Regions from separate parts of the Homo sapiens genome. Here region 2 is linked to region 1. The links come from fine-mapping of genetic effects on gene expression. A gene starts in region 1. The other region holds a variant in brackets. All regions are shown on one strand. Distances are from middle to middle.

Region 1 (4,379 bases):
CCTCTCGGCGGCTCGGCCCGGCCCGCCCGAGCCCGCCCGAGCCCGCCGCGGCCCCTGCCGCCCCCACGCCGCCGCCCCCGGCCCTGCCCACCAGCCCGGGACCCTCCCGGGCCTCCCCGGACGCCCCCTGGCCGAGGCTCGCGTCCAGACGCCCGGGCCGGCGGCGGGAGGGCGCGACAGCTCGGCGGACCCTGCCCGGCCCCGGCCCCGGCCCCGGCCCCGGGGTCTATGGGAGCCCCGGCGCGGGCGCGGGTCTGGGCACGGTTGCGGGTCCGGGCCGCTGCCCCGCCCACAGCCACCTACCCGGCGGGGCCGCGGCTCATGGCCTGGCCCTGCGCGCCGGCCTCGCTCCCTGCGCCGCCTCGGCCGGCCGGGCCGCAGCCCCAGCCCTAGCCCCTCGTCCCACCCCCTCCCCGCCCCCCGAAAGGCGCGGGGCTCCCGGGCCCCGCGCACCTGCCCCACGCGCCGGCCCCCAGAGCTGGCCCTGGAGGAGGACAGAGGAGGCCGGATCCACCCCGGGACGGGAGAAGCGCGGGCTCGCCTGCCCGCACGGGGAACTCCATGGTGGCCCAATGCCGCCGGCCCGCCTGCTTATTTTAAAACACACATAAAGAATAATCAGCTCCGGGTCTCTGGGAATCTTCTTCCCAGGGTGGGAAATGTGAGCTGCTGCGGGGATTTACTAGTTAAAAATGCTTTTGCAACAAAGGAGCCTGTTGCATGGAACAGGTTGGAACCACCCGGGAAAGTGACAGCCCAGTTATGTCCGGGTCCAGGTGCAAGAAGCGGTAGAAGACAATGGTGTTAAAACTCTTGGCAACAATTAATAAAATTATTGCATCAACTTTGCTACCCACCGCCCTGTAAAATGTCAACAACAAAGTGCAGTGACTAAAAATGCTGCAGCCCAGAAAGCAGAGCCACTCAAAAATAAACTCAGACAATCAGGTACACAGCAAGAGCTGCAGCCCAGAAACAGTCCGGGACGGGCACGTGTGAGGAAGCAAAAACGCTGAAGATTAGATTCCTCAGCAGATACTGACCCTGCGTTCAACTCAACTGTTGAGAACGGGGGCATTTCCACTTCAAAGGAACACACGATCGAGGCACCAACACCAACCACGAAATACAGGGACGCGGGCGAGGACCTCTCTTTCCGAGAGATCGGGAAATGGCTTCAAAGTCGCAATGATGCCCCCACCCTGAGGTGCAGATCACACAAGGATCCGTGGCCGTTTTCTCCTGTCGGAATTGGTCTAGGGAATCTCGAGTTCATGCTAGTTTTAAAAAAAACTCTGCCAAAGAACAAAACCACCCACGACAAACACCCCAACTTAAGGGATTTCGTGGCAAGACTTCCCACTCTTCCCCCTCAACCCACCTCTTTCCACTCAAGAAACCTAAACCCCCAAAGACCTCGTCTCGGGCTGAGAACCCCGCTGCCCAGGGACCTGTCCGCCCGCAGGCCACCCGGGACCCAAGCAAAACAAACTCGGCCACCAGAGTGAACTCGCCCGCTCGCCGGGCTCCACACCCAAGACGCCGACCGAGCACGGGGAAGCGCTTTTCGCCACTGAAAGGACCGACGCCGTCCAGACTTTACCCTAAGGGCCAACAAGCAGGGGGATGGCCTCCTTTTCGCGAGAACCTCCAACGAGACCGGACTTTTCTCGGAGGCGCAGTCTCCTCCAGCCCCGTCCCGCTCCGCACCGGCTCGCGTCTCGGGATGGGGACGCAGAAGCCTCCTCGCCCTGAGGCCAGTTGTGGCTGTACCGGGCGCTGTGGAAGCGACGCCCCCCCCGCGCTCTCCCGCGCCGCCCGACAGGACCCCCCGGCCGGGCCTCGCCATGACAGCCCCGCCGCCCAGCCTTGGTCACCTTTTTCATCAACGCCGGGCGGCAGCCTGGCTTCCCGGGGCCTCCCCGGGTGCCCGCAGAACCAGCCGGGCCGGGCAGCCCCGGCCCCCGAGCGCCGGCTGCAGGGAGGCCGCAACGCCGGGCTGGTCGTCCGCCTCGGAAGCGACTGGTCGAGCGGCGCTAGCCCCGGCACGTCCCCTCCGCGGGCCGGCGCGCGGCTGCGGGGGCTGCGGACGCAGATACTGCCGCCACTCACCCTAGCGAAGCCGGCCCGCCGCCCTCAGCAGCAGTTCCGGCTACGGCGGCCGGTGGGGACCTCACGGACGGCGCGCGGGGGCGGGGCCGGGGTGCGCGGGCGCGCGGGGCGGGGCGACGAACGCGGGGGCGAGCACCCCCAATGTTTCTTCGGGCCCGTCTCCCCAAAACGGCGCTCCCATTGGCTAGCGCTGGGCGGGCGCGCTCGCACGTACGAGCCCGGTGGGCGTCGGGGGCGAGCCCGCGGCGCCAGTAGTGTTGTGACGCCAGCCTCGCGACCTTGCGGACTGTGCGTCTCTTTGGATTGGTGGACAGACAGCCAATAGGCCAGGGCCCGTGCTGTGATTGGCCGCAGCAGTGTTGACGGATACGTGAGAAGAAAACGGCGTGGTAGCTCGGAGTGTGGAATCGGGCGCGAACCTGAGTTCTGAGAAGTGTGGAAGCACGTCTGAGGCAGTTAAGCGCACCCTTTCCTGGGTGGAGTATGTGCTTCTGCGCTACGTTAGCGTAGCCGAGCGGCGCTGGGCACTTGGTCATTTTCTTCATAGCAAGAAAGCAGAGGGGTGTTTTTCAAATTCCAGTGTTTCTTTCTTTCTTTTTTTTTTTTTTTGAGACGGAGTTTCGCTCTGTCGCCCAGGCTGGAGTGCAGTGGCGCAATCTTGGCTCACTGCAAGCTCCGCCTCCCAGGTTCAAGCGATTCTCCTGCCTCAGCCTCCCGAGTAGTTGGAATTACAGGCGCGCGCCACCATACTCGCTAATTTGTGTGTTTTTAGTACATACGGGGTTTCACCATGTTGGCCAAGCTAGTCTCGAACTCCTGACCTCAAGTGATCCGCTCGTCTCAGCCTCCCAAAGTACTGGGTTTGCAGGCGTGAGCCACCGCGCCCGGCTCAAATTCCAGTGTTTCTTTTTCTTTTCTTTTTTTTTTTTTTTGACTCGCTCTGTCGCCCAGGCTGGAGTGCAGTGGCCCGATCTCGGCTCGCTGCAGTCTCCGCCTCCCGGGGCTCAGGCGATTCTCCTCCCTCAGCCTCCTGTAGCCGAGACTAGAGGCGCCACCGCGCCCGGCTAATTTTTGTAATTTTTTAGAGACAGGATCTCGCCTTGTTGCCAAGGCTGGTCTCGAACTCCTGGGCTCCAACGATCCGCCCGCCCCAGCCCCCAAGAGCTGGAAGCCCAAGCGCGAGCCCCGCGTCCGGCCGCCAGCTGCTTTCTTGGGGGCGCTCCCTGCCTCGCTTGGCTCTGTGGAGTCCGGGGCCCGGCGATGGAACAGGCCCTCAGTCACCCAACACCTCAGGACACTGCCGAGCGCATCGACTTTCCCAGAAACGCTTGACCCACGCCCTCCGCTCCGAAACTAGAAAAGCGGAGCCCAGGGAAGGCCTGGGCCGAGACCGCCGCGTGCTGGAAAGGCTCCGCCTCGGGATGCACGGGAAGGGAACACGCCCAGGAGGGGAGGATGCCGCGGTTGATCGGGGCTGTGACAGCGCGCCCTCCACACAAAGGGGACCCAGACGCCGGCCCTGCGCCGCCGTCTCTCCTAGAAAAAGCTCGTCCCGCTTCTCTCTTGCAGAGCGGAATAACCTGGCCCCCGACGCTCGGGCCTCGGAGCTGCACGTGCGTGCCCGATCGCCTTCGGCTCTTTCCGGCCGCTCGGGGCGCTTCGGGAGTCCTCGGGGCCGCCTCGCTCACCTTCGGCTATTTCCGCGTTCCTGGCGCGCCGTTGTCCCGGCAACGCGCGGCGGCTCAGCGGCCTGGCAGAGGTGAGTGGCCTTAGGGCTAGGGCGGCCGACCCAGGTCCTTAGGAGCCAGGCCGGGGTTTGGGGCCGAGGATGTGACCGGTGGCGGGCGTCGGGACCCTCCCGTCTCCTCCCACGATCCCGGCGCCGCCGAGTCCCCGCGGCCCCTCGCGAGTCCCATCGAGGCTGGGGCGGGCTTGGCGCGGGGTCCAGGTCGCTCGTCGGACTATGGCTGTCGCCCCCGCCCGGCCTCGAATCGCGGCTGATTCCGGTAGCTGGGAGAGTCCCTTTGGAATGGGCGGGGTGGGGAGGTGGGCGGCGCCATCACACCCCCGAGGCGAAACGGGACAAACGAGAGATGCAAAACAAAAACATGCTATGTTTGGTCACTCGCTGGGTCGGCCCTGAGGGTCGTGTTGCATCAAACCGCCAGCGCATGGCTTCTCAGTACCGTCCGCTGGATGCAGCGAGGACCCTGCGCAGGCCGAAGGCTCTGGACTGTGGCCTGGAGGGCGAGGCTTTGTAGGGTGGC
Region 2 (4,379 bases), 25 kb before region 1:
CAAGCAGCCAATGGGAAACCTCTAGAGGTTTCCCCCTCTAGAGGGGGAAACTTCTGTAAAAGGGCTCTTGAGCCCCTACGTCCGGGCCCACTCCCACCCTGTGGAGTGTACTTTGGTTTTCAATAAATCTCTGCTTTTGTTGCTTCATTCTTCCCTTGCTTTGTTTGTGCATTTTGTACAATTCTTTGTTCGAAATGCCAAGAACCTGGACACCCTCCACCTCTCAGAAGCTTCTAGGGAGGAAACCAGAACAAGCAGTGGTGCAAAAGGACCAGGCAACAAGGAGTGGGAACACATGGTCAAGATGGGGTTTTCCTTTATCTGGGGAAGATGAGAGCTGGGAGAGCTGTGGCGTAAACTCCTTGGGGCCTGGGATGCTTCCCAAGGCTGAGAGAGGGCAGATGAGAGGCGGCAGGAACAGGCATGAAGAGCTGGGACACGAGGCCCACGGACATGAGTGCGGGCTGGAGAGGCAGGCTGGAGGAGGTAAGAGGAGTGGCTGGGCCCACAGGGGACAGACCCAGTGGGGAAGTGCAGGAGGGCAGGGCCTCCCACACACAAATGCCACACTAGATTGCAGCAGCCACCCCGCAGGACACAGCAAGGCATGGAGGGGCAGCAAGGGGACAGAGTGTGGTGCAGGCCTGGCACAGACAGGGCGACTGCTCCGTATCTGTCCTCTCAGCCCCACCACCCGCCCTGAGCTGTGACATGCTAGCTGGCGTGGTCGTGCAGTATCCCACTGAAGAGGGGGGGATCCCCTACAGTGCCCACTGGACAGCCCAGGCATGCTCTCTTCTTATGAAGTCAGGCAGAAGAAGCAGGGCTGAGGGGCGCTGGGCACAAGCGCCTGGTAAGTCTACAATGTCCCTACCTAGAGGTCGTGTCAAAAATGTCTCAAGGGAATCTGGTCCCGAGGAGACGATCGGAACAAATCCAAGCAAGGGCCTGCGTGAGGAAGGCCTGAGCGCGTTGCAATGTCTCAGAAGCCCAGGCAGTGCGGCCGCTCTAAGTCAAAGACACCCAAGGGAGACTCCACAGTCACATGCAGGGCAACGGCCCTTGACAGAAGCCCTGACTGATATTTTGGGATGTTTTAGAAAATCTGAATATGGGCAGGAAATTAGGTAAGATCACTACACCTGTTTGGTAAATGCTAAAAGTCTAGGTGCGACCATGGTATCAAGGCTATATAGGAGAAATGTTCTCTGAGGTGATGCCGGTGGAGGTATTCTGGGCTGTGGCGTGACATCTTACAGTCGAGTGGAATGCAGAGTGTGTGAACACATGTGTGCACGCGAGCATGTGTGCATGTGCATGGAGAAAGAGAGCAAATGTAGCCAACGTCAGCAACAGGTCCATCTAAGCTAAAGAGCACGGCCGCCATCATATTCTTCACCTCTTCTAGTAAAATTTTTTCAAGATAAAAGTTAGAGGGAAACTAGAAACAACTCTGAGCACTAAAGCCCAAAGGTGACAAAGGACAGGAGGAGCCGTGGGCAACCCCACAGTCAGCGTACTCACAGCCCCCAATCTTCTTGCGCAGCTCGCCATAGCAGATCAGGCCATACAGTTCCTGGGATGACTTCTTCAGGCCTCGAGAGAACACTGAGAAACAGAAGAGAAGGCGGCTTTAGAGAGGGGAACAGGAGGCGCTGCCTGGCTTGGGTGTGAGAGCCACACCAGGCTCA[C/T]GTGGTTTCTTGGATCTCCTCCCTGTACCTTTGTCATGCAAGCTGTCAACCACAGGGGACACTGGGCAGAGTGTATAGAACACGGTGCTGTGTCTGCGATTTTCAAAATAAAAAGTTAAACCAAAGTGGGGCGTTAGAAATTTACCCCAATAGGCAGAGGAAATGTCCCCTGGAGGAGAAAACACAACACTCAGAACAGCTGGTACTCGTGAAGGTGGCAGATGTGGCCAGCACTAAACCTGTCATCCATCTCTGCACACAGGTGAGGCCAGCAGCCCTGAAACCTGGATGCTGCCTTCCTGCCTCACCTGTGCCCTCCCAGGACAGTGGATCTGCATAGCCCGGGCCCAGGCGGGAGGAGGAGCCAAGGACAGGTGCTCACCCCTGCCTGAGGCCCATTCTCCTTCCTCAGTAAGAGGCCCTGTTTTTTTTTTTTTTCTTTTCTTGGAGACAGGGTCTCACTCTCTCGCCCAGACTGGAGTGCAGTGGCATGATCTCGGCTCACCGCAACCTCTGCCTCCCAGGCTCAAGAGATTCTCCTGCCTCAGCCTCCCAAGTAGCTGAGATTACAGGTGCACACCATTATGGCCTGGCTAATTTTTGTATTTTTAGTAGAGACAGGGTTTCACCATGTGGGCCAGGCTGGTCTCGAACTCCTGACCTCAAATGATCTACCTGTCTCAACCTCCCAAAGTGCTGGGATTACAGGCATGAGCCACCGTGCCCAGCCAAGGCCCCTGTTTTATTTGGGAGGCAAACAGGCTGAGACATGGACAGCTGGTCATGGCTACACCACTGGAAGTAGTGGAGACTTCCAGAAGCCTCCTTAAAGAGCCTGATTTGGGCAGGAGGGTTCCCCTTTTCCCACCCCTCTTTCCTCAAGAGCCACTGCCTGGAGCTGTCACCAAGGACAGCCAAGCACAAGAATGGGAGGCACCTGGGTCCTGCCTGCCCTGGGCGCCAGCCTCTAGGCGTCTCTGCCACGAGACAGTGAATTCTGAGGCGCTTGGGCCACTGCTATTTTGCATTTTGTTACTGTATTACACCAGACCTAATCCTGCTAGGGAAACCAAGTGACAACACAGTCCAGGCCCCTTTGGGTCACTTCACAGAGCAGGGGTGAAGGCCATTTGTCCCCTCTACTCTCACAATTGTCCTCTCTAGTTCTCTCCTCAGAGACCTGTTCTCAAGGCCCTAAGACTGGTAAATGGAGAAGCAGGCTTTCAAGATATGAGGAGGATTCTGGACCATGGGTCTCGGACACGGCTAAGCACAGGCCAACTGCTCTCAAAGGCTCTTCTGAGAGAAAGACCTAAGACCTAAGGGCTCATCAGACTTTCTTTTTTTCTTTCTTTCTTTTTTTTTTTTTGAGACAGAGTTTCGCTCTTGTTGCCCAGGCTGGAGTGCGGTGACGCGATCTCAGCTCACTGCAACCTCCGCCTCCCAGGTTCAAGGGATTCTCCTGCCTCAGCCTCCCAAGTAGCTGGGATTACAGGCATGCGCCACCACGCCCTGCTAATGTTTGTATTTTTAGTAGAGACGGGGTTTCACCACGTTAGTCAGGCTGGTCTCAAACTCTTGACCTCAGGTGATCCGCCCACCTCGGCCTCCCAAAATGTTGGGATTACAGGCGTGAGCCACCACGCCTGGCCTCATCAGACTTTCTTAAAGGAGCCCATGACTCGGAAAGCTTTAAGATCCACTATTCAGTAGACAAGCAAAATGTGGCCATCCACCCAAAGGAAAATAATCCAGCCATACAAAGGACTGGCACACGCTACAACACAGACAAACCCTGAAACCTGACGCTGAGTGAAGGAAACCAGGCACAGAAGGACACATAGCACGTGATCCCATTTCTATGAAACATCCAGAGTAGAACGATCCATAGAGACAGGAGGTAGTAAACTGAGGGCTCCCAGCACCGGGGCACAGGGTTTCCTCCTGGGCAATGGACATATTCTGCAACTAGAGAGTGGCAATGGCTGCATAACCTTGTAAGTACATTAAGAACCACTAAGTTGTATGCTTTAAAAGGGTGAATAATATCCCCATTTCTAAAATATATATTTTAAAGTCCACTATTTGAAATGGCAAAAAGAAAAAAACCCACAACCCAGAAACAAGAAAGTAGCACCAAGAGCAAGACACTGCAGACAAGGGACCCCAGGGGAGGTGGGACCCTGGGACGAAGCAGGGCTTCCGGGAGGTGTCCCTGATGCCCCGCCTGGCCCCACGGCCTCCTAGGTGGCACCTCATGTTTTATTACACACTCAGGGACAGGAACCAAGCTCACCTCATCCAACTTTGAGTTCGTGAAGCAAAATCTCCACTGAGCAATGGACAGCAGCAAGGAAACGCAGATGTGCATGGAAACCACGGGAGATTAGTAAGACGAACACACACGCAAGGCCCCCAAGCTGGGGGCGGAGTCAGTCCCTTCCACGCTCGCTTGCCACCACTCTGTGTCTCACGCCACAAGATGAGTCAGACAAACCCATGATAAAGTGCACACGGTGTGCTCTTCAAAACTCCAAAGCACAGGCCAGGCGTGGTGGCTCACGCCTGTAATCCTTGCACTTTGGGAGGCCGAGGCAGGTGGATTTCCTGAGCTCAGGAGTTCAAGACCAGCTTGGCAACATAGTGAAACCTCATCTCTCCTAAAAAATATAAAATTAGCTGGGTGTG

The links. PIP is the estimated chance that this variant, and not a neighbour inherited with it, causes the effect.
Region 2: its variant is fine-mapped to the expression of CRAMP1 in whole blood (TOPMed, PIP above 0.99).

Annotation. Positions count from the first base shown.
Region 1 is chr16:1,610,156-1,614,534 of GRCh38, reverse strand. CRAMP1 (cramped chromatin regulator 1) reads right to left here and starts at 2,175. Exons shown (of 21, transcript NM_020825.4): 1 at 1,878-2,175. It overlaps IFT140 (intraflagellar transport 140), which reads left to right and starts at 2,463. Exons shown (of 31, transcript NM_014714.4): 1 at 2,463-2,567; 2 at 3,682-3,871. LOC105371046 (a long non-coding RNA gene) reads right to left here. Exons shown (of 3, transcript NR_135176.1): 3 at 4,207-4,379. RefSeq lists enhancers at 1,279-1,779, 1,780-2,280, 2,669-2,728 and silencers at 1,659-1,818, 1,849-1,968, 1,989-2,518, 3,757-4,136.
Region 2 is chr16:1,635,053-1,639,431 of GRCh38, reverse strand. CRAMP1 (cramped chromatin regulator 1) reads right to left here. Exons shown (of 21, transcript NM_020825.4): 5 at 1,525-1,608. Among named protein-coding and RNA genes, the nearest start is that of CRAMP1, 25 kb to the right of the region's middle. The variant C/T (reference allele first, on the strand shown) is at 1,692.